Homo sapiens: one gene and its partners. The protein of the gene in region 2 purifies or fractionates together with the protein of the main gene of each other region. This does not show direct contact. Each region holds a gene or a part of one and is shown on either strand. Other genes may lie near its edges.

Region 1 (5,045 bases), on a different chromosome or scaffold from region 2:
TAGACATGCACACATAGCCATACTTAAAGACATAAGTGTAGACCATGTACAAACAGACACAGACATGAACACAGACAGGTGCACACTCAGGCCTACCCACAGAGACATGCACAAACAGACATGTGTATATACATTCAGAGACATGTCACAGACACGGGCTTTCTGGCCAGACTTTCCATAGTCCTACCTTTGAGGTGAGAGGTTCAAGAGGGTGTATTGGGCCAAGAAGAATGACAGTTGCACTCCAAAGCACCCTAGGGGCCTCTGTGGGCAAAGCTATGAGGATAACTGAAACTAACACTTGTCTGCAGCTGAGCCTGGATTGAGGAGGAACATCCAGATGACCAGGGATCCCTAAATCTACATTCTACTTCAGTTTTCTCTGGATGCTTCTGTCAGGTCCTGTATGTCAGCTGGGACTGGCAGACACCTGGTGCCTGGAAAGGCTTCAGAGGAAGGCTAGGAGGAGTCCCTGAGCTCGGTGGATCTGAGCTCACCACACTCAGCCATTGCTTGGCTTCCGTGTGCTGTGCAGACCAGAACTACTAGCACGGGAAGGGGGCCGAAGGCAGGGGCAGTACAGAGCATCATCGCTTAGCCCAGGAGTGCCCCTGGTATGCCTGGGGTCTACATTGACACTGGATGGTCTCTTCCCGACATTGGCCATCTGACTGTGCTCTGCGAAAGGACCACAAATTCCAAGCGTGTCAGAGCATAATGTCACCGGAAGGGGCAACCCCCCCATCCATTCATTCCTTCACTTATTCATTCATCTAACAAGGACTTAATGAATTACCAGGTGCCATGTACGGTGCTAGAGGTTAGGAATTGAGAGAGAGAATCCTTTTGGCTTCAAGGGGTAATCGGAAGAGTAAACTGCAACACAGTGTAAGTTCATCTTACAAAGAAGAATAGTAGTATTGAACTTCTATTGAGTTATTTCAATTTCTCAGGAACTTTGGGAATGCTTTAACTCACTGTCCCATTTAATCAGCACAACAGTCCTATGAGATAGACTCTAGCATTTTTCCCATTAAGCAGGTGAAGAAACTGAAATGCAGAATGGTTCAGTAATTTGTACTGAATTGAAATCCAAAATGCTTCAAAATCCAAAACCTTTTAAGTGCTGACATGATGCTCAAAGGAAATGCTCACTGGAGCATATCGGATTTCAGATTTTGTGGATTTGGGATGCTCAACCAGTAAGTGTAATGCAAATATTACAAAATCTGAAAAAGTTCCAAACACTTCTGGTCCCAAGCATTTCAGATAAGGGACACTCAAGCCGCATGTAGTGAAAGAGCGAGGCCGGGACAGAGGCAGGGTTTGAACCATTGACTCATTGCTGAGTCCTGGAGACTCAGAGTACTATGGGAACAGAGAAGCATCCGCGTCAGACAGGCATGCCCAGAGTAATGAAGTCAGTCACACACCAGTAAGCCCCAGAACCAAGGCCAGAAACCAGCCATGGCGGGGCGGGCGGTGGGAAGTGGATCCCAAGCCCAGGTTCCTATGGGAACCCATCCATTTCCCATGCTATTCTTTGGGTTTACTCTGACAACTGAGGAACAAGGAAAAGGCCTTTTTATCTTCTTCTGCTAAACTCTCTCCTTAGGAAATCTCAGCTTTTCCAAAGCTTCCATTTCAAATAAGTCGGCATCACCCAAATCTGCATCTTCAGACCCTTCACCTGCATTACAGAGCCACTCATCCTTCATGTGCATCCAACTCAACGTGTCCAAACCATACTTGGGCACCCTCTACATCCCTCTATACTTAACCTGCTCTTCCTTCCATGTTGCCCATCTCAGTGAGCAGCCATGCCTCCAGCTGAACAAACCTACCTTTGTCCCATACCTAACTTGATCTCCAATCACCCACTTCTCTCCATTCCCCTTACCCTGCTGTGTTTTCATAACTTGGCCCTCCATCACTCTAGCCTGGACTGTGCCATGCCTCCTATTGGATGACCCTGCCTTGCTCATTTCCAATCCATGTCCCACCCTGAAACCAGAATACTTTTTAAAGAAAAACTGATACTATCAATTCTCTGAACGCCTTCAACAGCTTTCCACTACCCTTATAAAGTCTAAAGTCTTTCACCTGAATTTAAAAACTCTCCAACTTCACCTTGCCTCTTGTCACCACCCCTGCTCTTCCTACCACTGTTAAAATATTCATTTCAGTCACACAAACATCCTTCAGCTCATTGAAAACTGTTTCCTTGCCTCCAGAGCTTCACTCCTCATTTGCCTTGGCTTAGAACACTCTTCCCTCTCCTGACCTCTCTGCTTGGCCATCTCCTACTCATGTTTCCAGTAATGGGTTAGACCATGGGTTGGCAAATTTATCTGCAAGAGACTAAATAGTAAATATTTTAGGCTTTGTGGGCCATATACGGTCCCTCTTATATATTCTTCTTTCAAAAAAAACTTACAGCTCTTTACAAATGCAAAAATCATTCTTAGTTCACAGGCTGTACAAAAACAGGCCACAGACTAGATTGAGCATTCAGGCCATTGTTTGCTGAGCCCTGGTTTAGGCATCGCTTCCTTCAAAAGTTTTTCAAGGCTGTCTGTCCCTTAGAGTCTTGGGTGCCCCTATATATGTTGCTACAATGCTCTGCACTTGCCCTGCTGTGACAGAGCTTACTAGGTGTTCACCAGAATTCATGCTGCTCTCTTCTTGGGTTCCCTTCCCCTAGTGACTGAGTTCCAGCCAATGAATTATGACCAGGAATGTGTGTCATTTCCAGGGCTGGCCCATAAAACCCAGCCTTCCTAGTGACCGAGCTCTGGTCAGTGAAATACCAGCAGGAATGAGTGTCATTTCCAGGACTGGCCCATGAAACTCCCTCACATGCACTGCTTCATGTCTACTCCATCTGGTTGACTGAGGATGGAGATGACCCCCAGAGTAACCTTGGAAGCCACATGATGAAGATGGCAGAGTCACTCTCAGCCTGGATCCCAGAGTGACTGCATAGAGCAATCCCTGCCCCTACTCCTACCCCTACACACACACACACACACACACACACATACACACACTCACACACACACACACCCTACAACCTGCGACCATGCTGAACTATTATATGGGAAAGAAAAATTTTCCACTGTGTCAAGCCATGATGTATGGGTCTACTTGTGACTGTAGCCTGGCCCACCCTAGCACACTCTCACAGCATGTATCACAGCTCATGTGAGTGCTTATTTAAGCTCTGTCTTCTGTGCAAGGATAGGGACCTTATCAGTCAATTCCACCACTGTCTCAAACATCTAGCATGAAGCATAGCACACTTCCAGCAAATAATTGATGAATAGATGAGTATCTGGAATCTCATTTATCAGAGAGCCCTTGGTCCCATGCCTGGGTGGGGGCAAGTATTGAAAGGCCAGGAGCACAGGGGAGAGCACTCACCTTCTTTGCTAACACCCAGGCAGCCCTTCAGCTCAGGCAGTGAAATGACCTTGTCTTTGTTCAGGTCACAGTAGTCGGTGAAACGCCGGGCACATTTCTTGGGCTTGGCTTTCTTCTTCACGTAGCGCTTGAAGGGCTTCATCTCCCGCTTGTTAATGTCGTTGCTGCTATTGCTGTCCAGCTGGCTGAAATACCAGTGCACTACCCGCTCCTCCAGGGTGTGGCTGGGGTCTGGCTCTGAGAACCTGGGCCATGGACAAACACCCCCACCGCAGAGAACACCAATCAGGATCTTGCAGGAACCATCAGCCCTGGTATGACTGCCCCCAGAAAGTCAGGTAGAAACGGCTCCTCCAAGCCAAAGTCCACCCACAGCGGCTCAGCCTGTGGCAACGTTAAGCCATCCTCTCCGACTCAAATCCTAAGATTGGACCATTCTTTTCTCAGGACTCCCCAGGTGGGTAATCCTTATTACACAAACATGACTCACCCTCTACCAAAGCCAGAAATGTTCTTGTACATGATGGGTGCTCAAGACAAATTGGCTTGATCTAATTTGCTGAATAAACCAGAGCTGGAATCCAAATTGTCCCTCCCCTGGCCTAGCACTCACTGCGGACAAGCTGCTCATTACACGTAAACATGTGCCCTGTGGTGGACTGACTGTGGGGAAGGTGCTCTGAGCATCCACTGTACGCCCAGTGCCAGTCTGGGCCCTGGAGGGTGCACCCCTGGCCTCAAGTGGCTCACTGTCTCTATGAGACAGAGCCAAAAAGGTGAAAATAGTCATGACAACTGAATGTGGGGTGTGAGGTTCCCACGGTCCATCACTGCTGGACATCCAGTGCAGTGGGAATTGAGAGAAGAAAGCAACTGGGTCAGACACCAACAGAAGTTCCAAAACTGGAAAAGCCGGGACCTACTGGGGATGAGTCTCTCCAGCCTGAGGTTTTAGTCAGGGGATCTGGGGTGGACCCAGGAAACCATGTATTCACCAGCACTGCCAGGTGATTCTGCTGAGAAATGCTGGACTAGAGTCACCAAGAACACTTCCTGGCATCCAGAGGCAGAGTCACAAGCACATCTAACACAGCCCCTCATCAAGTTACAAGGCCAACATCTACGTCTACATGTGTAACTGTATGTAATGGCCTACTCATCTATGTTATTTACTTAACTGTCTCCTATTTTCTCCCAAAACGGAGTCAGGGTGATAACTACTATTTACAATTTTTAAAGCCAATAATGGGTCTATTACAGAGGGGCTGCCTGGGTTCACTAACGAGGAGAATGGAACCCCATGAGCCCCATGGCTCCTGTTCCCAGGGCTTGGCACTGAGTGACTGTGATCTAGGCCCTTGTGCAACTTCCCCTGGGGAAGGAGAAAAAGATTGATGTTGGGAGTCCCACACATTCACATCCTCAGTGTGCAGGGCGCTGGGACAGAGCACATGACTACCAGAGGTCAGAAGTGGGGCAGAGGGCTCACTGTTCCAGAGGGATCCTAGATCAGGGTCGAAGGCCTGTCTGCACATTCTGAAGCTGTTCCTGGTGGGGAAACTATTCAAGGCACTTGTCATGCCACCCTGACTTCTCTGGGGTTTGCTGAGTTTTCCAGAAGG
Region 2 (5,645 bases):
CATTGCCAGCACAAACCATGTCTCCAAAGATGTCCTTGCGGAAACTGTACTTGAGGAAGAGGTGGTTGCACATAGAGTTGTTTATGATGGCGACCTGAACTTCCTGGAGGGTGTGGGGAGATGGCAGTGCTGTGCGGACGATAGTGGGAAGGAGAGAGACAGCAACCTGAGGCCCCTCTATGGAGGGATGGCATAGGCTGCGGGGGTGGGGGCCCTGGGGCACCCACTGTGCCTGGCAGGTTCATCTCCATTACCCCCAGCTCCAACCCAGACCCCAGCACAACAGAGGCCCTCAGCAGCATCACAGAAGGCCCCGGGGAGGGACAGGCTGTCAGAGCTCCCCCAGCCGCACTTTCCCTATCTGTAGAATGGCAACAATGGCCCTGCCTGCAGCCATGGAGAGATTCCTCAGCCAAAAGGAGCCGAGGGAGGGGCGAAGGCAGCTGAGACGGTGTTCAGATGAGCATCCAAAGCCAGACCTGGGGGAGGGGCAGCCTGGCTGCAGCCCTGGCCTCAGTAGCAGCTGGGCGCTTTCCAGGCCTGGACACAAGCTTGTTGCAGCACTCTTAGGGACCCCCAGCACCCCTGGGAGGCGGCAGTCATCAGGACCTACTCCCAGATAAGGAGAGTCAGGGGGATATTGCCCCGCTGACCCCCAGCAAGGCACTGGGGAAGTTTCAGAGCCTGACAGGAGCCCACACCTGTCCAATTCCTGCCTCAGAGTGCCAGCCAGCACCTTGTCCTGCAGAGGATGACAAAAGACAATGAGACCCAACCTGCAGGCAGCGCTTCCCGTCAGCGGGGCCTCTCCTAAGCCCTCGGGACTAACAACCTGGGAACTAGCCTCTGATGTGGCACCATCATTCCCCTATTTCACAGGGGAGGAAACTGAGGCACTGTAAGATGAACACCTTTGCCCAAGGCCTCCCAGCCCGCGCAGGGCACAGCAAAGGTGCACACCAGGCAGGGGGCTCCAGAAGTGCCTGTCCCCTGCCTCCCCGGCACTGTGAATTGAGGCACAGCCTGGGGTTGGTGTGACCTGTCTACCCTGGGCTGGGGAGAGAGGGTGGCAGAGGCAGCCTGGCCGTGCCCCTGGCTCATATCCACTCGTGTTTGCAGCAAGGGTCCTTCTCAGGGAAGGCAAAGGATCCCTCCTCCAGAGGGAGGCGGCTCCAGTGCTGAGTTCCCCACTCCCAACTGCCGGGGTGTGACTTGGGGACATCCCTTACCCTCTCTAAGGCAAGGGGCCCTGACTTCTCCATTTACTAGTTCTTGGCAATTTCCATAACCCTCTCAGTTTTCTCATCTGTAAGATGGGTATAAGAACGTTACCAACTTCATTCCTAGGTGAGCTCCAGCAGGAGGAGAGGCCGCGCCTGGCTCACTGCTGGGCCCCCATGTCTAGAACAGTGCCAGGCACACAGCGTGTGCTCAAGGAACCACGTTTGTTATTGTTACTACTGTTGTGGGATGATGCAGGGACGGGCCAGACAGGGGAGCAGAGGGAAGGGATTCCTGATACAGGGAACACGCCCAGTCTGGGGCTGCCGGGGCTCCTCCGGATGCTGGGCCCACTTCTTTCAGGGCATGTGTGTTGGGGGACACGCAGGTGCCAGGGCAGGCCCACCAGAGGAACCCCCAGAGGGGTTTCCGTGGGAGCTGCGGTTGAGCATGGCTTGGAAGTTTCTGGGGAGAGGAATGGGCTCAGTGCTGCAGGAGAATCGGCCAGAGCTAGGGTGGGTGTGGGAGGCATGGAGAGGCAGCCCAGGAGCCTGATGCCTGGGGCATTGGTGAGCACTGGGGGAGGTGGAAAGATGCAGGAATAAATCCAAGTATGAGGTTTATGTCGCCAAGCCCTCCAGAACCCCTCCACCACCGCACCACCCACAGGCCTGCGCCAAACTGGCCTCCCTCTCACACTCTCCTTCTGGCCCCCACAGCCCCTGGAAGGGAGAGAACTGGGTGTTTGGTCCCTGCCCTGGCAGGTGAGGAGAGACTGCAAGCAAGAGGGGCATAGCCTGCACCCCCAGACCAAGCAGGGGGCTATTGTGCCTATGCAGGGGAACAGGTGAACAAAGACAGTTCCTCCCTGACCCGCCTGTCCCCAGCCTCACCCTCATCCTCTTTGATGTACCCCCAGCCAGTCACCCAGCAGTCTGTCCGGTTCTCAAACTCAAATGTGGAGGCCTGGAGACAGATGGGCTGGATGTGTTTAGTGTAGGTGACAGGTGCAGACAGCTTCACCAAGGCAATGTCATAGGGTGAATTCCCCAGGTAGCGAGGGCTCAGATAGATATTCGATACGAAGTAACGGGTGTAGTAGGCCTGCAGGCTCCAGAAGGATGGCATGGAAGTCAGCTGGCCAAACTGGACCATCCACCCGGAGGGATCACTAAGGTCACTATAGCTGGCAGAAGAGAAGAGAGCAGTCAGGGGCCCTGGATGGAGGGCTGGCTACCTGAGCACAACTGGGGTCCAGTGCAGGAGGGGAAACTGTGGTGTTGCTGCTACTTGCTAACACCCAGGGTCCCCTGCAGAAATGAAGGAGCCCAGACAGACCACAACCAAAGTCCTAGGACCTGCTCCTGCAGCAGAAGGGTGGGGTCTTGTCACCTCCCAGAGCTGTCCCAAGGAGCCTTGCATTGAGCCAAGGCCTCCAGGGGCACCCCCATGCAGCCCAAGGAGGAATGGGGAGATGCACCACGCCAATGTGGGATTGGCAGGATGGAGTCCACACAGCGGCCCGGGGGTGCTGGCCTTGGCTCAGTGCCCCACACTGTACCGCACCGTCCACCAGGAGGGGGGATGAGGGTGGGATGGTCAGTGGTGAACTTTGGGTTGAAAGAAAAAGGGAGAGAATACCCAAAAGTGTGTGGAAATGTTCTGGAAGAACATTCTGGAATAACCTGAACAGGGTTCCCTCCAGGAGACCCAAAGGGAACTGGAGTGGGTGTAACCGGCTGCAGCACAGCCTGGGGCTCAGGAGAACACCAGGCCGCATCCACGCACAACTTTCACGCCCAAGTCTGGCATCAGACCAGAGGTAAAGTTCGGTGGCACTCCCTCCAGCCCTGTTCCTGCCCGTCCCCGCACCCCTCCGTTCGCACCCCCACTCACGTTTCAAAGCAGTGCGCCGCCGTGAGTGCCCAGCGGTGGCTGAGCAGGCTCACTCCGCATACGTGGGAATCCCACAGGCGCAGGCTCCCCTGCCACGGCCAACGCCCGAGTTCGGCGTCCTCTCCACCCACGATGCGCGACGTGATGACCCGTCGGCCGCATGGTCCTCGGATGGTCAGAGGAACTGCTGAGCCGCGGGAGGCAGCCCCCCAAGCCCGACCTCTCCCTTTCTCCCCTTCAACCCCGTCCGGGAAAGCACGTTTTTGCCCACCCAGGGTCCCCTCGCGTGTGTGCAGCAGGAAGTAGGTGACACTGGAGATCCTCCCACGTGCTCTGCAGGGCCCGCCCATCCCCCTCCAGCGTCCGTTAGTTACTTTCCACGCCAACAGAGTTCTCGATCCCGGGGGCGGGGGCGAGAGAGCAGTAAAGGCCCCCCTCTACCCCCTCACCGCCCCCCGTCCACCTCGGCCCAACGGCCCTGGCAGGAATCGCGCGTCCTGGGCGCCCTACCTGATAACGGCGCCGCCTCCTGCGACTCTGCGGGAGACAAGAAGTGACTCCCCGCGGCCTCCACCTCCCGTCCTCCCCACCGCTCCCCCGCCTCCCCATCCCGCCAGCAGCGCCCCGAGCTCACCCGGCTTCCTGAGTCCAGCCCGAGCCAGCAGCAGCGCCAGCAGCAGCGCCCCGCGCGCGCCCATGGCCTCCTCTCCCGCGGCCTGACGCCCCCTCTGCCTCCTCTCGCGCCGGGCCCGGGGCGCCCCCTGGGGGCGGGGCGGGGTGGGAGCTCTGCCCTCTACTCCCAGCTTCACCCTCCTGGGCCCAAGGGCTGTTTGGGGCCTCTCATGCCTGGCAGCGCCCTGGCTTTCAGCCCCTAGGGGCGGGTCTTCAACCACACTTCTTGATGTGGCCCAGACCCGGTGGACCCCACAGTCCCTTTCTTGTCTGCAGCCCAGGGGTCCCGGCTGCCCTCTTGGTGACCCCGTCCTCCACCTACAACCTCCTCCAGCACCAAGGGCCTGGCCCTGAGCCAGGAGTCCCCTTAAAGCCTGGGGACCCCCTGAAGGCCGGGTGGGGCCTAGAGGCATGGCTGCTCCTTCATGGGACCTTCTTGGGAAAACAGTGGTCCTCGGCCCGTTCCACCCAGAATGGGGATCTCCCCAAGTCTCTGCCCAGGCTGTCCCCACTGCGGGCTCCCGCTGGGCTCTCTTCACTTCTCTGGAACAATTTTTTTTTTTTTTGAGATGGAGTTTCGCTCTTGTCGCCCAGGCTGGAGTGCATTGGCGTGATCCCAGCTCACTGCAACCTCCACCTCCTGGGTTCAAGCGATTCTCCTGCCTCAGCCTCCCAAGTAGCTGGGGTTACAGGCGCGCGCCAGCACACCTGGCTCATTTTTGTATTTTTAGTACAGACGGGGTTTCGCCATGTTAACCAGGCTGGTCTCCAACTCCTGACCTCAGGTAATCCGCCCACCTCGGCCTCTCAAAGTGCTGGGATTACAGGCATGAGCCACCGCGCCCAGCTGCAATTCCACTTCTGAGCATACACCCAAAAGAACTGAAAGGAAGGTCTTCAAGAGATATTTGTTTTTGGTTTTTTGGGGGGATTTAGTTTTGTTTGTTTTTGAGATGGAGTCTTGCTCCATCGCTCAGGCTGGAGTGCAGTGGTGCGATCTTGGCTCACTGCAACATCTGCCTCCTGGGTTCAAGTGATTCTCCTGTCTCAGCCTCCAGAGTAGCTGGGATTAGAGGCACCTGCCACCATGCTTAGCTAATTTTTGTATTTTTAGTAGAGATGGGGTTTCGCCATGTTGGCCAGGCTGGTCTTGAACTTCTGACCTCAGGTGATCTGCCCTCTGCGGCCTCCCAAAGTGCCAGGGTGAAGGTGTGAGCCACCCCACCCAGCCTTCAAGAGATATTTGTATACCCATGTTCATAGCAGGATTATTCACAGTAGCTGACATGAAAGCAACCCAAGAATCCATTGACCACTGAACAGATCAGTGAAAATGGGAATGTACAACCAGAACCTGGGAATCCCGCCTCCCTCAACTTGAAACTTGGGAATAGCGTATTCTACTTTCAACACTTGCACTAGTGGAAGGTTAATTACATGAAAGATTAGGCAAAATGTGTGGTTAGGCGTTCTGGTTTTCCAATAAAAGTATTAAGTTTCTTTGGGGAAAGTACAGATAAAATGCTTAGCACAGAGCATGGTACCAACGGGAACTCAATGAGGGCGCAGCGGGTGTGTGGGAGCTTCGGGTTTCAGGAGCACAAGGCTGCGGTGCCTTCCCTCAGGGCCTCCTTCCCCAGCAGCAGCTGCTCAAGGACAAGTCACATGCACAGCCTGGCCTTGGCCTGCTGGGTTGGGGCAAAGGTCCCTGGGCTTCTGATCCTGCCCCTCTCCCAGCCAGCAGGACGTTCCCTCTGGTTCCTGAGTCCCAGGGATCCGCTGAGGCCCCTAGGAGGTGTCAGCTCCTGGTTTTGCCCAGGGTCTCAGTCAGGCCAGTCCTACCCGGAGATCTGAGC
Region 3 (5,045 bases), on a different chromosome or scaffold from region 2:
GTGCCTGGCCAAACAGTTTATTTTTAGTGTTGCTCTCTGTTGGTGCACCAGAAATGAAAGAGGGAGCTAGATGGAGACATAAGTTGACAACAACACTGATATGGGGATACTCAGATACATCCCTATCATTTTTACCATTCAGCTAGACAGAGGCAGTATAATGCCTATACCCACATTACCTGAAACAAAAACAAACCCAAAACAAAATAAAAACCCAAACATGCCCACAGCTTGCCCTTGTGATAAGATCATGTGTTCACATACTTTCCCTACTAAAGTGATCCATTACTGGCTAATGATGAAAATTCTGTGTTTTTAAAATAATTCTTGAACCATGTGATGACTTTGCCTTTGGCCCATCGGCCATTCACAAAAAAAATCCTTTGTATTGCTGCCAATTGGAGAAAGGAGAGAAAACTAAAATTTGCCAACTTATTTCTTGTCTTCTCCTTGAGAAAAATAGGCCATTAATTTTTTCCAACTATGAAGAGTAGGTGGGAACTACCTCCTGTCTTGAGAAGCATGAAGGAAAAGTAGCTACTTTCCTTTCAAATACATCTAAGTATGTTTGCAGGTTTTGTGGCAGCAATACTTACTAATCTAGTTAATTTAAGATTCAACTTTTTTTCAATTCACTTCTTTTGTAAGTTAGGTATCATTAATCAGATATTTACTCATTTTAGCTTCTACCTGTTCTTCTCTAACATCAAGTGTCTCACTGGATGGCCCTATCCATTAGCACCTCAGGGCAGAAACATGGTAGTCATGTTCAAGTTTTTCTCTTTAGCATCCTACACCCAGTCTGATACTCAGTTCTGTCAAATTTATGTTTCAAATTAATTCCCTTGTCTCCAATACTAGTGCCACCACCTGAGGTGTAAGGCCCTCAGCAATTTTCATCTGGATTACTACTCCTCAAACATTTCAGCCTTCTGACTGGTCACCTGCTAATACCCTCTTTACAAATTAATTTTTCATAATTTCTATGTGCTAATATATATAAAATGAAGTTTATGGTTGAGTGAACTGTGTCATGAATACTTTAAATGATGAAAAAATTCCCAAGTTTCTTGGAATTTAACTATTTTGAATATTGCTACTTACTTTGGGAATGCATCAAAACAGTAGGTCTTCTTGGTATCAGGAAAGGCAACTCGCATTCCCGAAGTCAGAGGAGAATGAAGAATAACAGCAGCACTCTCATATCGAGCAGCAAGATCCACAGACGGTACTGTCCCTATACTTTGGCCATATATAATCACATTTTCAGGGCGAATGCCATATCTACAAAGTTCAGGCGTTAAAAACAAAAACCAAAAAAGTTGGAGTGATATGAAATGTTCCATCATTCCAAAGGATTTGATCTTAGAATAAGACAATGTCAACTAATCCATTTTTTAAACTTAAGTTTCTTAGCTATTACTGTTAGTTTTAACATTACAATAAAGTCTGTATCATCAGTTTATTTCATGTGTTTCTCTACTTCATCTTTTGGAAGAATAATTGCTGAGGTATTTTAAGATTTCAATCTTAAGAAATAAATTTATTAAATAATTTATTACACTATAATATTTCAACCTAGCTTACTGCTGACTAAGCTTGGGGCATATCACTAATATTTTAATGAACTGATGTTGAATGAATAGGTCATATTTATTTTCCGTTCAGTGTAACAAAAGTTATTTATTTCTCCACACATCAAGAGTGGCTCATTTTAATTTCCAAAATTGGTCATATTGATGAACTGTTACATATAGTTATGGTATGAAATGAATATATGTATGGTTTTAGTAAAGGGCAAATTATGATTTTACGATTTTTCTTAAAATTGATCTTTGCTTAGTTGTAGAAATGGACTAATGGTTGAAAAGATAAAAAAGAATTCCAAACACCACATGGTCCAATTATTTATGATTAGACTTTACGCTAAAATTACAAGGTACTATTTTAATCCCTTTAAAATGGCCACAGGTTTAAATAGATGAAAACTCATTGACTCAATAAATATTTATTGGGTACCTAGTATGTTCAAGGAACTGCTTGCTACTTGTCTACAGTATAATCATCCCAAATGTAAACTACTGCAAGTGTAAGTACAGTGCTACCTGAGCTAATGAATGTGGGCTTAAAGGTTATAGTGACATTAAATACACCTTTCCACTTAGAAGGCAGACAGCAGTCACTCTGGCAGCTAAGAACATAACAGCTGCTTTTGGAAATCTTTTGCAAAGGTAAAATATCTTTCTAAGAATCTGGATATTCACCAGGAAAGAGCGAGGGAAACTGTCCGTGTGTTCTCTTCCAGGGGCATAATACTATTTCAACTATACAGGTAGTAACACAGCTCTCCCCATATAGTTTCTTCAAGTCAGTACTACACAAGCATTTGTATAGGACACAGAAAGTGGGGCTCTGTCTACTTCAAATTGACTCTAAATATTAGCAAACTCAGAAAAGCTTTTTTCTTTACAACAGACCTAGTTGCACATATTTCATACGAATGAAGAAATTAGGAGAATGAACATTTGCAGCATGACCACAGTTCTTGAGGCTGCATTGTTGCTGTCAGCTGAATATCAGCATTGTTGGTGGCAATCATGAAATTTGGGCTACAGCTAGCAATGACAATGCTCAAGGATAGAGTCGCAGAGGTAGCTGACAATTAAGCATGAGGGGACTCACAAGAGTAACAACTGCCTAACAGTATGAGCTAGAAAGGAGTTTAGAGACCATCTAATCTAGAGTCCAGCTGCCTAATGAGCAGATCTTCAAAGTCACCAGTAGATGACAGCTCTATAATTAGAACCCAGGTATACTGACTCCCAGTTCAGTGTTTTTTACCTCTGAAGCACACAGATGAGGAACTCAAGGACTTTGTGGGAAAGGTGCATAGTGAATGCCAGGCCCCGAGTTTCTTTTGGTCCATCAGAAGGTCAGAAATTGGAGTTATTATGGATATCCAATTTTCCCAAAAAGGACATTCCAATGTTCATTCATCCCAAAAATGAACATTATTTAAGTTCATTATTTATTTTCTCTCTCCTGGTTACTTAAGTCCTAACTTTTAATCAGGCAAATAAAATAAAAGGCATGTATTCTAATTACACACATTTCATTAGATGACAGAATTCCAGAATTGGAAAAGATCTTGGGGATCATTTAATTCAATCTCTTCATTAAACAGATGAGGAAACACAGGCTCAGAGAAGTAATATTTCCTAAAGTACCTACACTTATGAAACTCCAACTATATTTTGGTTTCAACACGAAAGAAAACACAGGTCTAAAATTCTAAAATATAAGTGCTAAAATAGTATGTGGGATTATTGATGAAATCTGCCCATTCCTGATTAACACTGGCTATCAAATATGTTAAAAAAATTAAGGCTGAAAATCATTTTTCAAAGTTTTCTTCAAATTGGTAAATGCCAAGATTAAAAGAAAAGAAAAGAAAAAAACAGTAAAGTTGACCACTTAAAAAATGGGATTTTTTCATATAGACACAGAACACTGAACTGAATACTAACATGTTTTGTTTGAGTAAAGTGACCCTTTTGCGTTACTGGGAAGCACTAATAATGAAAGCTGGCTATCAGTTTTAACTTAGCACCCTTTAAAACTTCATTATTCCACTGAAGTTAACCTTTAAAAGTGTGAACCTTATCACTCAATAAAGCTATTTTTTTAATTATAATACTTTCTTATAGTTGTTATACGTTATTCAACTGACTGACTCTAAAAAGTGGGCACTCAGTTTCTGTTTGTTTTAAGGCTTGATGGAACTGATATCAATATATGTAAAAGATTTTTATTTAAAGCAGTTTTTAATTTATCAATTAAACAATAACTTTACCATCCCCCATCAACTCTTTACCTACTACTTGCCATCTTTTTTTCCTTATTCCCCATATTTATGTTTTTATATAATTTCAGTTGATTTTAAGAATCCCTTTTATGTAGAACTTCGCTATGAGAGCATAACTTTATTACATTTCTTTGGAGGGAAAAATAGTTTTAAAGATATTTTTAATATCTTTAATAATATTAACTACTTTATTATTAAAATTGAGGAAATTTTTCCTGACTAAATGAAATCTTTAATATTTAAACATTAAATTAGAAACAGTAAGTTTTCTTTATATCCTATAGCTTCAGTCTAAAACATCCTGGAAGTCAGATATTTTATTTTCATATAATATAAAGAATAGCCTATATTAAGGTATCTGTTTATTGTACACTAACCTGACTAATAATACACTGAAGTCTACCAAATTGTGATTTTTTTTTCAAGAAAAATGTTTAGGTATCTTGGTGACTAGAAAAGATTAATGCAATTTCTAGTTCCCCAAAATGTATGCTGCTATAATCAAAGAATAACTGACATAGTAAGAAAATTTTATTAAACAATTTATCATAACATTAAAACTTCTTTTTTTTTAAACAGAGTCTTACTCTGTCACTTGGGCTTGAGTGCAGTGGTGTGATCTCAGCTCACTGCAACCTCCGCCTCCCAGGTTCAAGTGATTCTCCTGCCTCAGCTTCCCGAATACCTGGGATTACAGGCACCCGCCACTGTGCCCGGCTAATTTTCGTATTTTTAGTAGAGACGGGGTTTCACCATCTTGGCCAGGCTGGTCTCGAATACCTGACCTCGTGATCTACCTGCCTTAGCCTCCCAAAGTGCTGTGATTACAGGCATGAGCCACTGCGCCCAGACATTTTTTTTTTGTATTTTTAGTAGAGATGGGGTTTCACCATGTTGGCCAGACTGGTCTCGAACTCCTGACCTTGTGATTCGCCTGCCTCAGCCTCCCAAAGTGCTAGGACTACAGGCGTGAGCCACCGCACCCAGCCTAAAAAATTTTTTTAAACTTGATATAATCTCTCCCAATTTTAGGAACACAGAATATAAAGTAAAATCTCAGTTTTACAGAATGAATACTTGAAAAATAATTCCAATAAGGTATCTTTAAGTTGTACTTCCCAAGAAGTAATCACATAAAATAATGCAAATCTTGGCTTAAGATTTTAATAGAAAGCAATCC
Region 4 (5,045 bases), on a different chromosome or scaffold from region 2:
TCCAATCGATTTTTAAAATCGTCATCCTTCATCTCCAAAAGGGGATCACTATCCAAACTTAAAATACAGTCTTCTGATCTGATATCTTCAAAATCATTATCCCATTCAAACAAACCAGTTCTAACAGATCCCTTGATTGGAGATATTTCTGATGGTGATTCTGGCCTTTTCCCAAACTGGGAGTTCCAAGTATCATTTGTTTCCTTGATTTCAGAAGCCACTGTAGTTTCTGCATTGGGTTTCTTAGTACTGTCATCAGCATTTTTGTGAATATGGTGACTATTCTTTTCATGTTCTTCATGAAAATTCTCCACTTTATCTGTAAAAATAAGTCAAAGGATAAAAACATGAGTGGTATCAACATAAAAGTTAATAAATAACATATATGTGGTTAATCAATAGTATATGATCAATCTTGGAAGAACTGCAAATAATTTTAAGTTGTGAAGAAATTAACATTTACATATCAGACATTTCCTCTCCTATCTTTTCAGTGTATAGCTCTCATGCCTTCTACTGACCTTTCCTCAGGCAACCAAGTCCCTTAAAATTGTAAACTCACAAGAAATTTCAGCAGGGTTAAGCAACTGAATCCATTCAGAATGACATGTAAATGACTCAGCCAAACCTTCTTAGGGGTATTATGGGCTTTTCAAATAAAGATGCTTAAATTAAAAATCATTTAGTAAAACCTAAACCAACTGAACAGTTAATAAAAACCTTCTACCAGTGTTTTTATTTATCTGGGATAGGGCTGCCCATAAGGTATGCTAGTTCTATCCAGAAACCTGTCCATAGGATCAGGTTTCTCTAGCTATTTCTGTTCTTTCTTCTAATCCTAAATGCCATATAATCTCAAGGGAATTTTTAGCAGTAGTTCTGGTGTGTTAGTTAAATGGCTAATAGTGGCTATTTATGCATATCAGCCAGTAATAAATCCTCAGCCTGCCTATTCATCTGGTATGTGGAGAATTCATTTTTGTTGCCTTCAATTTTTACTATCAGAACATTTTTACAACCTTTCCAAATGAGATACAAATATGATTCCAACTGGTATTATTAATTCCCTCAACATTTACTTGTAGAAAAACACTGACAAAATGTATACCCTATGCCAAACAATAAAATTACTTCTACAAAATACATCTACATTTAAGAAAAGCTATTTACAAATCTCAATTAGCATCATCAAATACAGGTGAGAGGGATGCTTTACATGGACAGATTCACTGCATAATTTTTAATTCTACCCAATAGGTTTTCCTGCCCTCAAGACAGGATCTCACTGTCACCCACACTGGAATACAGTGGTGTGATCACAGCTCACTGCAGCTTCAGAGACCTCCAGGCCTCAAGTGATCCTCCCACCTCAGCCTCCTGAGCAGCACTCCCAAACAGCTGGAACTACAGGTGTGCACCACCACACCTGCCTAACTCCCCTTTTTATTTAACAGACAGGGTCACACTACGGTGCCTAGGCTGGTCTTGAACTCCTGGGCTCAAGCAAACGTCCTGCCTCTGCCTCCCAAAGTGCTACAATCACAGGCATGAGCCACCACGTCCAGCCTCCAAAGGGTTTTAATGTAATTTAACAGGTTAAGATTTGGTAATATCTTTTAAAACTAAAAATGTACATGTGAAAGAAAGGACTTACTCTTGAAGCCAGCAGTTTCATTTACAAGTATTTAGAAATAACTTTCCACGAACACAAAATTACATAAGTAACAAGAAACTCAATAGAACACTGTTTCCTGGTTTTTGCTTTCATAAACAATATACCAATTAATAAAGAATTAAATTACCATATAGCAACACACCTGAATACTATGCAGTTGTTAAAAAGAATGAGGCAGCTCTACATTATGTACAGATATGGATGCTCTTAGAGATGGAATGACTAAGGGATAAGGAACAAGAAAAGACTTTCATACTTCTTGAATTTTATACTGCATGTAAGTTGTCTATTCAAAAGCCAAAACATAAAAAATGCCAAAATTGTATATTTTTGGAGTCCTTATCTGTTAAAAAAATATATTTATGAATCAAATACAACATCTTGAATTTACTTTAGTGAGGATAAAAATGAAACAAGACTGGCAATGAATTGTTTGTTGAAGATTAAACAGTTGAACTGTTTAATGGAGATGGAGATACAAATAGACATTATTTTTGTAGACATAAACACACAAATGTATACATCTGTGTAACTGTATACTAGTCTATACACACAAATATATACAGACTTCCTTTACCCTCTTATAAGAAAATGAAGATACTTCCTTTGATTTCTTACCAAACCCATCATTACACAGATGAGAAAAAAAGGCCCAGAGGGGCTAATGACTGCAGAGGTTCTCAATTAAATCAATAGTCAAAAGAGACTTCATAAAAAAGACCCATACCAAACTATATTACACTACGTCTAGTGGTGGCTGCTAAACACTAAAATGCTAGGCCAGGCGTGGTGGCTCATGCCTGTAATCCCAGCAGTTTGGGAGGCCAAGGCGGGCGGATCATGAGGTCAGGAGTTCGAGGCCAGCCTGGCCAACATGGTGAAACCCTGTCTCTACTAAAAACACAAAAATTAGCCAGGCGTGGTGGCGGGCGCCTGTAGTCCCAGCTACTCAGGAGGCTGAGGCAGGAGAACTGCTTGAACCCGGGAGGCAGAGGTTGCAGTGAGCCAAGATCATGTCACTGTACTCCAACCTGGGCAAAAGAGCGAGACTCTGTTTAAAAGAACAACAACAACAAAACTAATTCACTGGCTGGGCGCGGGGGCTCACACCTGTAATCCCAGCACTTTGGGAGGCTGAGGTGGAAATAGCAAATGTTTATCTCACGGTGTGCTGAGGACTAAACTTAAACAATGCCTTTAACCTGTAAGAAATCTGTGCAAATGATACAAAGTGGCTTGGAGACCATAACCCATGAAATACAGTTGAGGCAACTAGAAAGGTTTAATTGGTGCAGGGATGGAAGAAAACTGCCATTACATGAAACCTGCCTTTAAATATCTGAATGGCTGTCATGATAAGAAAACAAACTTCGCCGGGTGTGGTGGCTCATGCCTGTAATCCCAGCACTTTGGGAGGCCGAAGCGGGTGGGTCATCAGGTCAGGAGATTGAGACCATCCTGGCTAACACAGTGAAACTCCGTCTCTACTAAAAATACAAAAAAATGAGCCAGGCGTGGTGGCGGGCATCTGTAGTTCCAGCTACCCGGGAGGCTGAGGCAGGAGAATGGCGTGAACCCGGAAGGCGGAGCTTGCAGTGAGCCAAGATCACACCACTGCACCACGGCCTGGGTGACAGAGCAAGACTCCATCTCAAAAAAAAAAAAGAATACACACATGAAAAATGCTTATCATTAGTTGCTAGGGAAACACAAAAGGTAAATTCCTTAATATACCAAGAATCCTTACACATCAGTAAGTCCAATGTCCCAGTAGAAAATGGCGCTAGGGGCCAGGCACAATGGCTCAGGCCTATAATGCCGGCTCTTTGGGAGGCCGAGTCAGGCAGATCACTTGAGGCCAGAAGTTCGAGACCAGTGTGGCCAACATGGTGAAACCCTGTCTCCACTAAAAAGACAAAAAAAACCCAGCCAGGCGTGGTGGCACATGCCAGTCGTCCTCGCTACTTGGGAGGCTGAGGCACAAGAATTGTTTGAACCCAGGAGGCAGAGGTTGTAGTGAGCTGAGATAGCACCACTGCACTCCAGCCTGGGCAACAGAGCAAGACTCTGCCTCAAAAATAAATGAATAAATAATAAGCCAAGAACACAAAGAAGCAATTCATTAAAATATATATCTATAATGAATTAAATAACTTATGAAGGATACTCAATTTCACTCACAATTAAAACTCAAAGTAAAACAAAGCTGAACTATATTTATATAAGCCCTCGGTATGTGCCTGGTAGTATTCTAAATACTTTCTATTAATTTATTTTATCTCAAAGCAACCATCAGGCCAGGTGCGGTGGCTCACGCCTGTAATCCCAGCACTTTGGGAGGCAGAGGTGGGCAGATCACGAGGTCAGGAGATCGAGACCAGACTAGCTAACACGGTGACACCCCATCTCTACTAAAAAATACAAAAAATTAGCCGGGCGTAGTAGCACACACCTGTAGTCCAAGCTACTTGGGAGGCTGAGGCAGAAGAATCGCTTGAACCTGGGAGGCAGAGGTGGCAGTGAGCCCCGTCGACAGAGCGAGACTCAGTCTCAAAAAAAAAAAGAAAAAGGAATAACAGGGACATAGCAGTACGTGCTTATAGTCCCACCTAGAGCTACCCAGGGCACTGTGGCCAGCGGTTCATTTGAGGCTGCTGTTATGATCACACCTGTGTGAGTAGCCACGCACTCCAGCCTGAGCAACACAGCGAGGCTCCATCTTGACAACAAAAAACAACAAAAAATAGGAATAAAATTGATGCCAAAGAACTTTTTTGTCCAAAACCTTTATATACTTTAGCAATAACATTCATTCATATATATATAAACTAACTGAAAAAAGCCCACTCATCTCTTAAAAGATACATTTCCAATAAATTTTATCTTTAATATATACAGCATTCAAGTTTGATTATAGCATTCAAGTTTGATCAAATATTCTGAGAGCATTTGATTAAAAAAATAAAAGCACTGATAACTGTGATCATGATGTAGTACAGAATTATTTTTAAAACAGTTTAGAGCACTACAGTCACATAAAATTCCTAAAAGCTGTAGAGTTTTTTTTTCTGTAGAGACAGGATTTTTTTATGTTTTTTTTATGTTGCCCAGGCTGGTCTCAAACTCCTAGACTCAGGCGATCCTCCCATCTCAGCCTCCCAAAGTACTGGGATTACAAGCTTCAGCCACAGTGCCCAACTCTTTTTTTTTTTTTTTTTTTTTTTTTGGAGACAGAGTCTTGCTCTGTCAATAAGGCAGTGGTGCAGTCTCCACCTCCCACGTTCAAGTGATATTCTCCTGTCTCAACCTCCTGAGTAGCTGGGACTACAGGCGCGAGTCACCATTCCCAGCTAATTTTTTTATTTTTAGC
Region 5 (5,045 bases), on a different chromosome or scaffold from region 2:
TAGACATTTCAAATCAAAGGAGAAAAACACGTACCACAGATAACACTGAAGATCTAAAGTCAAACACAAAACTACCTTGTCAGGTTTGTTAGCAATTCACTGTGCATAAGAAACCCAAACATTCTTATTTCTGACACAGAAGAGAAGCTCCCTACCTAAAAGAAAATGTATTCTTTACATGCTAAGATTATATCTATCAAGTGGAAAATAGAATGATGTGGTGAAAAATAATAGACCTCAGATACAGGTGGGCACACATTCAAATTCTGGCTCTGCCACTTACTAGCAGTGGAACCCTACTCTGGTTGAATAATGTCTCTGTCTGATTCCTCAAGCATAAAATAATGATAATAATACAAACTTTGTAAGGTTTCTGTGAGGACAATGCAAGGAAAAGTGCTTAGGAGAGTGCCTGGCACATAGTTGCTCAATAAATGGTAGTTGTCAGAAAAAAAGGCTAGGAGATAGATGAAAATGTGAATAAGTGGTTAAATCAGTGTTTCTCAAACTTAAGCAATTACGTATCTTCTTCTAATTCTTTCTTGTAGGTGTGAACCCCACAAATTAAATGTATTTAGGCATTATTACTGCTTCACTCAGTCAATGTTTGTTCGGACATACCCACGTGTTCATCATTTCCTAGCTCAGATTCCTTACTGCATTTCAGAGCTTCTTTCTGAAATAATTTTGCTTTTTCCTAAGTACCTCTTTTAGAAGTTATTTCAATAAGAATCTGTTAATGATAAATTCCGTTTTTTTGGTTGGTTGGTTTCCTTTCGTTTCCTTTCTTCCCCTCCTCCTCCCACTCCGAGATAGAGTCATACTCTCTGTCGCTCAGGCTGGAGTGCAGTGGCATGGTCATAGCTCACTGTATCCTTGAACTCCAGTGTTCAATGGAACCTCCTGCCTCAGCCTCCTGAATGGCTAGGAGTAACTGTGACTACAGGCATGTGCCATCACATCCAGCTAATTTTTTGTAGAGATGAGGTCTTGCTATGTTGCCCAGGCTGATCTCAAATTCCTGAGCTCAAGCAATCCTCAATGATCCTCCTGCCTAAGTCTCCCAAAGCACTGGGATTACAGGCTTCTTCCTTTTTTTTTCCCTTTCTCTTTTTTTTTTAAACTGAAAAGTCTGTATTTAGCTCTTGGTCTTAAAAGATGGCTTAACCTAATATACAATTTTAGGATGAAAGTTATTTTCTCTCAGGACTTTGAAGATATTCTTTTTTGGTCTTCTGGCTGTTAAAAAGTCTTCTGTCAGTGTAATTGCCTAACACTCCTTTGCAGGTATTCTATTAGTTCTCTGACAATTTTTAAAATCTTTCTCTTTGTCTCTATTGTCTTACACAGTTTCACTACACTAATTTTTTATGTATCTAGCTTGGGATATGTTAGGTTTACTAAATCCATGGATTAGCATCTTTTTTTCCCATCATTTCTAGAAAATTCTCAGCTATTAATACCCCGAATATTGCCTCTCCGCATTCTATCATCTCCTTCTACAATCTGATTAGATGTATGTCAGTTCTTTCAACTCTGGCTTACATGTTTCTTTTTTTTCTTTTTTTTTTTTTTTTTAGAGAGAGTCTCACTTGCCCAGGCTGGAGTGCAATGGGGTGATCTTGGCTCACTGCAATTTCCGTCTCTTGAGTTCAAGTGATTCTCGTGCCTCTACCACCCAAGTAGCTGGGGCTATAGGCATGTGCCACCACACCTGGCTAATTTTTGTATTTTTAGTAGAGATGAGGTTTCGCCATGTTGGCCAGGCTGGTTTCGAACTCCTGACCTCAAGTGATCCACCTGCCTCGGCCTCCCTAAGTGCTGGGATTACAGGCATAAAACACCGTGCCCAGCCGTGGCTTACACATTTCTTAACCTTTTCTATATTACCTTTTTTTTTTGGTCTGTCTGTACTGCATTTTGAGTAATTTATTTAAATCAATCTTCCAATTTACTAGTTTACTCATCAGAATGTCTAATCTGCTGTTTATCTACTGAGTCTTAAATATAAATATTATATACATATTATTCATATTATATAATATTACATATTATATGATTCTTATAAGTTCTGAATTTTTTAAATTTATTTGGTCATCTCTTGTTTCTTGTTCATGTTTTTGGTTCTTTTACTTGTTTGAAAATGTTAAATATACTTACATTATATTCCTATTTCCCAATAAATGAAGTTTTTCAGGTGAACGTTCTGTTGACTGTTATTTCTGCTGATTCTCACCCATAATGTTTTGCTCCCTCTGTGCTCTGATTTATTTTTATTATAATTTCTTGTTCACTAGAACTTTATCTCTGGTAATTTTCAGACACTTGGGTTAAGGGTCCATTTCTCTAGAGAAATTTTTTGCCAGATGCCACGGGCACTACCAACCCAGAACAATTTAAAATAAATTCTCGGCTGGGCCTGGTGGCTCACACCTGTAATCCCAGCACTTTGGGAGGCCGAGGCGGGCAGATCACGAAGTCAGGAGACCAAGACACGGTGAAACCCCATCTCTACTAAAGGTACAAAAAATTAGCCAGGCGTGGTGGTTTGCACCTGTAATCCCAGCTACTCAGGAGACTGAGATGGCAGAATTGCTTGAACCCGGGAGGCTGAGGTTGCAGTGAGCCGAAATCATGCCACTGCACTCCAGCCTGGGTGACAGTCTCAAAAATAAAATAAAATAAATAAAATATATTAAAGTAAATTCTCAGCTTAGGGCTTGAAGGACCACATAGGTGATCTGAATTCAGGCCCAAACCCATATAAAGACCAATTTACGGAATTTACGGTTACAATCCTCAAAGGCAGCACTAGCTTTACTTTTTTTCCCTCCACTCCACTCACAGTCAAGGCCAAACATTTTTTAAAATCTGACATTTTTAGCTGTGGGAAGATTTTAAATAATGATCACTAAGTCCAAATACCTTTAAATATATTACTAAAGCATTATTAAAACAAGACGTTTGTTAGTTATCATGTAAAAAAGGTGGCTATATTTATTACCGGGACACTTAAATGCTTAATAGTCCCAACTAATATTCAATCAACTAATAGGTACTTTGTGAAAGACAATATATTGGGTGCAAACAAGAGCAGTGATATCCCACACCGGGAGTAGTTTATTATCAACTAAGCTGTAGGGCAGAGGCAAATCATGATCCTGTATCTTAGGACCGAAAATAGGGTTCTACTAAATCCTATCAAGTAAAGACCAGTTAGATAGTTTTTAACAGAATTAAAATGAATGATATAAGGATATGGTATTTATGACCTCAGGAAAGAAAACGATAATTAGAAGTACAGTGTTCCCTTCAACTGTTGGTTTCAAACGAGAAGTCACACTTCAGATTTAATATCAGGAGCTACAGGTGATGGGTGCATCAAAATCTCAGAAATCACCACTAAAGAACTTATCCATGTAACCAAAACCCACCTGTACCCCAAAAACTATTGAAAAATAAAAATTAAAAAAAGAAAAAGAAGAGAACAATAAATAAAAGCAAGAAGTTTTCAGTCAGGCCCCGCTGACCCACGACCCACCAACCCACGAACTGGCCCGGCCCTCACGTGCACCATGTCTGGCTCCTCCAGCGTTGCCGCTATGAAGAAAGTGGTTCAACAGCCCCGGCTGGAGGCCAGGCTCAACTGCATAAAAGTTTCCCAGGCAGCTGCAGACTTCAAACAATTCTGTCTGCAGAATGTTCAACATGACCCTCTGCTGACTAGAGTATCTTCAAGTACAAATCCCTTCAGACCCCAGAAAATCTGTTCTTTTTTGTAGTAAAATGAATTTCAAAAGTTTCCCAAACCACTTCTTATGATCCAGTGGATATTCAAAAGAGAGCTAAATTTGAAGCCTGTACAAAAGCTTATCCCTGTAGCACATGTGCTGTAATATACGAACTTCTAGTTTCATCAGTCTTTAACATCTACCTCTCTGAATTTCATGAATTTCTATTTCACAAGGGTAACTGTTTTATCCACACTGGCAGCAGCATACAATAAAACTCAGTATGAAAAAAAAAGTTTTCTTTCCCAGAAAAAAAAATATGTATATGATATATATATCAGGAGCTAGGAGGAAAGTGTTTTCTACTTCTTTCTCTTTTTTTTTTGAGATGGAGTTTTGCTCTTATCGCCCAGGCTGGAGTGCAATGGCACAATCTCAGCTCACCACAACCTCCACCTCCCAAGTTCAAGTGACTCTCCTGCCTCAGCCTCCCGAGTAGCTGGGATTACAGGCATGCACCACCACAACCGGCTAATTTTGTATTTTTAGTAGAGATGGGGTTTCTCCATGTTGGTCAGGCTGGTCTCAAACTCTCTACCTCAGGTGATCTGCCCGCCTTGGCCTCCCAAAGTGCTGGGATTACAGGTGTGAGCCACCGCACCCGGTCAAGAGTTTTCTATTTCTAATCACTGCCTAGACTATCACAACAGATAATCTATGCAATAATGGGTTTCCTCACAGCACTTTTAGAAGCAAAGTTTTTATACTCACTTGTAAAAGTAAAGTTCACAAATACAGCTCACAAAAGCCAGAAGACATCGCAAAAAGTAAAACACAAGAATCTAAAAGAAACCCAGAAAAAGAAAACAGAAGTCACAGATATGAGCTAGAAAAACTCATAAACATGAACCACTCTCATTTATTGTCAATAACACTGTAAATTGGTATAATTCTTTTGAAAAGCAACATGGATCAAGAATTTTCATATCCCTTGACTCAATATCAGTATACCTACTTCTATCACTCCAGCTGGTGGGGGTTGGGAGGTAGAGCTCCATTCATGAAAATGTTAATTGCAGTTTTAGTAAAAACTGTTTCAAAAACTACAAAATATCCAATTATAGGGAAATGATTAAATAAACTAGGCTACATCTAGCTCATGGACAATTATACAGCTATTAAAATTTATGTTTACAAAGATAGTGAAAACATTCTTGCAATATAATGCTCATTCAACAAGCAATTCTTCAACAACCATAATATATCAGGTAGTGATTATGACAAAATATTAAGAGAAAATGTACAATATTATTT
Region 6 (5,045 bases), on a different chromosome or scaffold from region 2:
TTATAGTAAGAAAAATACCTATAAATGAGAGAGAAAAACATAAAATATAATACATATTTTAATACTGTATATATACTATAATATATATGCACTATATTATATATGAAATATATGTACTATATATAAAATATACTATATATTTTTACCATACCTACTAAATATATAATAATAATATATTTAAAAATATAATATATGTATATACTTATAGTATTTATAGAACACTATATTGCAATGAATATGAATAAAGTAACTGTACCCGAAGCAACTTGAATTAATCATAAAAAAATATTTCCAAGAATGCAAACAATATTTGACAATTTAGGCTAATATTTTATTTACTTAAGACAATACTATATATGAATTAAATATGTAATATATACAGTAAACTCAAGAGAAAATGCATAGAAATAATAACAGCAAATTTACCACACTGGTTACCTCTTAGAAGGGAGATTCAATCTGGAAGAGTACCCAGAAAACTTCAATATTACATTTAATCTTTTATTACTTAACCTGGGTGGTAATTCAAGGGAACTTGTTTCACTCATTTTTGTGTCTGCTAATCAAACTTGTCATAATAATAAAAAGTCAGAGTCATTAAAAGCTCCAAGTACTCTGCACAGCAGCACCTCAACTCTAAATGCCATGTTCACATGTGATTACTGAAATTCTGCTCTTGGCAAATCTGCCTTTCTGATGCAGGACTCTTGTACTTCAGTAAGAGTGACTCATGTGATCTAATTTACTATACTCTAAGCAAATCTTTCTCTGAAGCACGGTAATCTGGGAAGACACAAAATAAGATCTAAAAAGCTTTGCAAATGGCTCCTCCCCCAAATGCTAAATTAAGTGCCATATTGATCTGACTGAATTGGAGAGCAATTGTTGTGATAAACTCCCTGTTCCTAGTTACACCTGGAATAGATTCTGTTAATATGTGGACTCAAGTGCCCCACCCCCATATATTCTATTGTAGTAATTCTGATGGGGGATCCTGGGACTGGTGTTTTAAGGGCTACTTTTTTCACTTTTAAGATTTATTTGGTTCAATGGACAAAGTTTGAGACATACTGCTTCACAGAATTTAGAGTCTGTCTTAGTATCTTTAGGGTGCTACAACAAAGTGCTATGGAATAGGTGCCTTGTAAACAATAGAAATGCTTTTCTCATAGTTTTAGAGGCTGGAAAGTCCAATATCAAGGCGCTGGAAGATTTGGTGTCTGGGGAGGACCCACTTTCTGCTTCATAGACAGCCATCTTCTTATGTTTAGTCGGGGGGGAAGGGGCAAGAGAGCTTACTCAGACCTCTTTTATAAGGGCACTAATTCCATTCCTGAGGGCTCTGCTTTCATGGTCTAGTCATCTCCCAAAGGCCCCACTTCCTAATTTTAATTTCAGCATATGAATTTGGAGAAGACACAGCATTCAGAACATAGCGCAGTCTCATAGTAGAAACGAATAAATGATTACAATGGAATTTCAGAGGCATTATTAAATGATCAGAAAGGGAGGAATACTTAAACCTATTTTCTTAACATGAAGGTCTTCACAGAAGAAGTGACACTTGTTTTGTGTTTTCAAACATCGCTAAAAAAATAAGAAAGTGAGAACCATTTGGGGCAGAATTCTGGACAAACACACACACACACACACACACAAAAGCCGAGAGGAATGAAACATCCTGAGTGTTTAAGAAAATGCAAGTAAATTTTCATAGTAATTGATAATTCTGAAGACTGAAAAGAAGAATTCATGCTTCATATCACAGAGTACCTTCAATGACTAAGGAGTTTAGAAATTGTCATTTTTGCCCTGACAGATAGCTCGCCAAACTTGTTGCACATGACTTCAAATGGCTGATCCCAGGAAGTGGAAGTAAGAATTGGAGGGCAGGCCCATGAGGAGAAGAGGTGAAGTTCAAGAGAAAAATCATAATTTTTTTTTTCTTTTCACTACATGATCATAGGGAATGAGGCAGAGGGACATAGCAAAGAGGAATGTGTCTTGATGCATGATGTGCTATTTACCACTTGGAAATCTAAAGAGATAAGCAAGTGTGGCAGGGAGGATGATACCTGTGGCTTTGAATGCTTTCCTTTAGGACAGTTTCCTTTAAAATGCTTGTGATGCATTTCTAGGTGGAGATGAAATTAGATCTTTGGAAATATAGGTATGACAATCAGGAGCAATGCATGGACAAGAAATATAAAATTTGAATGTCATTACTGAAACTCCGGAAATGTATCACAACATCTGGGTGACTATCGAGTGCGAAAAAATAATAAGGGCAAAATGCAGAAATATAATGAAGAAATAGAAATTTATAGTTGATGGATAATGTATGTAAAAGTATATAAGGTAAAGGCTCAAAAAATGTTAGCTTACTCCTCTTAATCCCTGAATAAAGACCAAATTAGACAGCAGATGTTATTGGAAATTACTTGGAATTTCAGAGGTAAGGAACAGCAATAGGGTTGGAATAATAAGAAAAATTTTATGGTGGAGAAGGAACATGAACCACCCTAGACAAATGGATAGGGTTTGGCCAAATGAAGAAGATAATTTTGCAGATTAGAGAAGACACGTGTGCAGAAATGGAAAGGCAGAAAAGAACAACTGGCTGAAACTGACGTACTGGATCCTTAGCAGGCATCCTGGCTACATATGCACAAATTTCAAAGAAAATGGAAAGCCCCTCAGTTTTCCCCAAGTGCTCTGACCCCCAGAGATGATACAGGCAGGGTGGCAGATAGGGGTGGGGTATATTTTCTGAAAAAGTTATTTACTGTTTATGAGATCCTTGGAAAGTAACTGTAAAAGTTTGCTCTTGGAGAAATGCAGATAATGCTTTGGACATGAAAAAGATATCAAGGAGATTAAAAAATTATGAGTACTAAAATAAAATTCAAGGAATAATCAAACTCCTTGTTTAAATATGGGGGAAAATAGGTAGGTCCAGTTAACTGAAGAGAATGGCTCCCTTAAAAGCAGCAGTATGACATACTAGAAAAGCATGTACTCTGTCATGAGAAAGAACTTGTTTTTAATCCTGGCTCTGCCCCTTTTTGGCTGAATAGTCATGTCTATTTTCCTTAAACTCTCTGAGCTTCATTCTCTTCATGTGTTGTAGACATCTAATAAAGCCTACTTTGAAAGGGTTATGTGGGGATTAAGTGAAATATCTATTGCAGGTACGGTGACTAACACTGTTTCTACAGTTTTATCCTATGTAGTTTTGAATTAGTCAGTTAGCCTTCTAGGACCTCAATTTCCTATAGAATTAGGAGAATTGGCACTAATATATTTTAGGTACAAATATGAATACATTAACAGTAACATTGCTCACTTCAACAGCAAGTTTAGAGAGATAAATGATTATGTGACCAGGTCATAATCTAGCCTATTGTATGCTATCATGTTTTTGTCTGTGGTCTCAGAAAGAGGAAAATCAGTTGAGTTTAGGTGGCAAGAAGGAGCTCATTCTCCAGCAGATTGGTGGAAGCTCACCTCAAGATACATTTCAAATGGTGCATTGCACCTGCTCATTCATCAAGCTGCCAGGGGCTTACTTTACTGCCTTGCTTTTTTTCATTTAAAATTCACATCTTTGTGGTGTCTAGAGTTTCTCAGCTTTGTAATGAAAGTAATACATTAAATCTTGCTTAAATAAAAGTAGTTCCTAATGTATTAAGTATAGATGAAGGCCAAAAAGTGAGATTTTATAGCTAAGCACAACACTACTTTCCAAATAGTGCACACAAGTGTATAGCTTCCTTTTCATCTCTGGTCAATGTTATTTTGTATTTGAATTGATTCTACTATGTTATAAGATAAAAGAAAATTATACAGAACAATGCAGTTCTCTTTGGGGAGATATTAGGGTATTTGTTCTTTATTTTGTGCAGTATAGGGTAAGAGAAAGTTGGCATTAAACCTTTGGGACTCCCTAGGCAGCTGTTGAGTCTCTCCCCTCCTCCCATGCTCAGCTCAGTGCTATATCACTGGAAATCACTAACCTTCATAGAGTAGAGCCCAGAAGATGGTAACACTGGTTCAAGGACAGGCTAAGGGAAGCGAAGGGAAGTAAAAGGAAGTAAATAGGAAAATACAACAAACATGTGATTAACAGCTGTTTTCTGAAGCAAGGCTCCACCAGGGATCTGCAGCTGTGTCATTGTGCTTCAATTCTGCAGCTCCTACAGGGCTAAATTGGAAGAGGCATGGAGCAGGAAGATATGTGCGAAAAGGCTAAAGGAAGTCCAAAAACCGTGGCAACAATATAAGGTGAATGCCCCCACTCCTTAGATATCCTAATTTTTATCCCTCATGGGAGAGGTATAGGTCCATAAGAAACAAAGTCATCTTACCAACTGGATATCTGCTCCGAGCTGCTGCTGCTTCCTCTTCCTTTTTTTGGGGGGTGGGGGCCGATTTTGGAAGGGCAAATATTGATGGAACATCTACCAACACTGCCTCTTCCCTTTAACAAAATCAACATGATGCATGCTTACAGATTGCCTTTGAAAGTTACCAGTGCCTCCTCAAGATATAGTAGAGAAGCAGGTTTTAAGGTGTCAGACTGAGGCTTTCAAAATAATAGCTGCTAGGAGAATACAAGTTTGGGCCTGAAAACCCAGTTATGAGGCTTCCAAATAAATCAGTGGATTTTCAACTTTTTTTTGTAATTATTATATCCTAGTTCCCAAACAACCACAGTAAAGGAGGCACATGGAAAGCGAGGAAAAAATGAAATGGCATTGTCTTCCCCCAGGTGCTCAATCAGTATATTTCCTTTGATGTGTAGCCTTCAAGTAACTGACAACCCCAAGTGGCCCATTCTATAGGGTCCTGCATCTACGCTCCTTCCTCTGTGCGCTCAGCCCGGGTTGACAAGCAACCTCCAAATTAAACAACCTCCCACCACTACTTGGAAACAGACAACCATCTCTTAACAGGCCTCTGTAACACACAGCTTGATGAAAATCACTTACACAGGGCAGATGACACAGAGGAGTTTACAAGGTCGGGGCACTCCTTGGCGGGGC

What was found.
Region 1: the proteins of PRSS21 (region 2) and SMOC1 purify together in Homo sapiens (affinity purification with mass spectrometry; one large-scale study listed by BioGRID and IntAct). This does not show direct contact.
Region 3: the proteins of PRSS21 (region 2) and ABHD17B purify together in Homo sapiens (affinity purification with mass spectrometry; one large-scale study listed by BioGRID and IntAct). This does not show direct contact.
Region 4: the proteins of PRSS21 (region 2) and WAPL purify together in Homo sapiens (affinity purification with mass spectrometry; one large-scale study listed by BioGRID and IntAct). This does not show direct contact.
Region 5: the proteins of PRSS21 (region 2) and ALG9 purify together in Homo sapiens (affinity purification with mass spectrometry; one large-scale study listed by BioGRID and IntAct). This does not show direct contact.
Region 6: the proteins of PRSS21 (region 2) and ROBO1 purify together in Homo sapiens (affinity purification with mass spectrometry; one large-scale study listed by BioGRID and IntAct). This does not show direct contact.

What each region holds. Positions count from the first base shown.
Region 1 is NC_000014.9:70,021,826-70,026,870, reverse strand, and holds part of SMOC1 (SPARC-related modular calcium-binding protein 1 isoform 1 precursor), read right to left. Parts: intron 3,669-5,045; coding exon 3,424-3,668; intron 1-3,423. UniProt on the Homo sapiens protein: Plays essential roles in both eye and limb development. Probable regulator of osteoblast differentiation.
Region 2 is NC_000016.10:2,815,439-2,821,083, reverse strand, and holds the start of PRSS21 (testisin isoform 1 preproprotein), read right to left. Parts: upstream 3,848-5,645; 5' UTR 3,816-3,847; coding exon 3,752-3,815; intron 3,655-3,751; coding exon 3,628-3,654; intron 3,284-3,627; coding exon 3,118-3,283; intron 2,408-3,117; coding exon 2,115-2,407; intron 743-2,114; coding exon of another isoform or gene 678-742; exon of another isoform or gene 130-677; coding exon 1-129. UniProt on the Homo sapiens protein: Could regulate proteolytic events associated with testicular germ cell maturation.
Region 3 is NC_000009.12:71,868,979-71,874,023, forward strand, and holds part of ABHD17B (alpha/beta hydrolase domain-containing protein 17B), read right to left. Parts: intron 1,285-5,045; coding exon 1,105-1,284; intron 1-1,104. UniProt on the Homo sapiens protein: Hydrolyzes fatty acids from S-acylated cysteine residues in proteins. Has depalmitoylating activity towards DLG4/PSD95. Has depalmitoylating activity towards GAP43. Has depalmitoylating activity towards MAP6. Has depalmitoylating activity towards NRAS.
Region 4 is NC_000010.11:86,500,425-86,505,469, forward strand, and holds part of WAPL (wings apart-like protein homolog), read right to left. Parts: intron 320-5,045; coding exon 1-319. UniProt on the Homo sapiens protein: Regulator of sister chromatid cohesion in mitosis which negatively regulates cohesin association with chromatin. Involved in both sister chromatid cohesion during interphase and sister-chromatid resolution during early stages of mitosis.
Region 5 is NC_000011.10:111,860,679-111,865,723, forward strand, and holds part of ALG9 (alpha-1,2-mannosyltransferase ALG9), read right to left. Parts: intron 4,574-5,045; coding exon 4,503-4,573; intron 4,021-4,502; exon of another isoform or gene 3,515-4,020; intron 1-3,514. UniProt on the Homo sapiens protein: Mannosyltransferase that operates in the biosynthetic pathway of dolichol-linked oligosaccharides, the glycan precursors employed in protein asparagine (N)-glycosylation.
Region 6 is NC_000003.12:79,760,975-79,766,019, forward strand, and holds part of ROBO1 (roundabout homolog 1 isoform a precursor), read right to left. Parts: intron 1-5,045. UniProt on the Homo sapiens protein: Receptor for SLIT1 and SLIT2 that mediates cellular responses to molecular guidance cues in cellular migration, including axonal navigation at the ventral midline of the neural tube and projection of axons to different regions during neuronal development.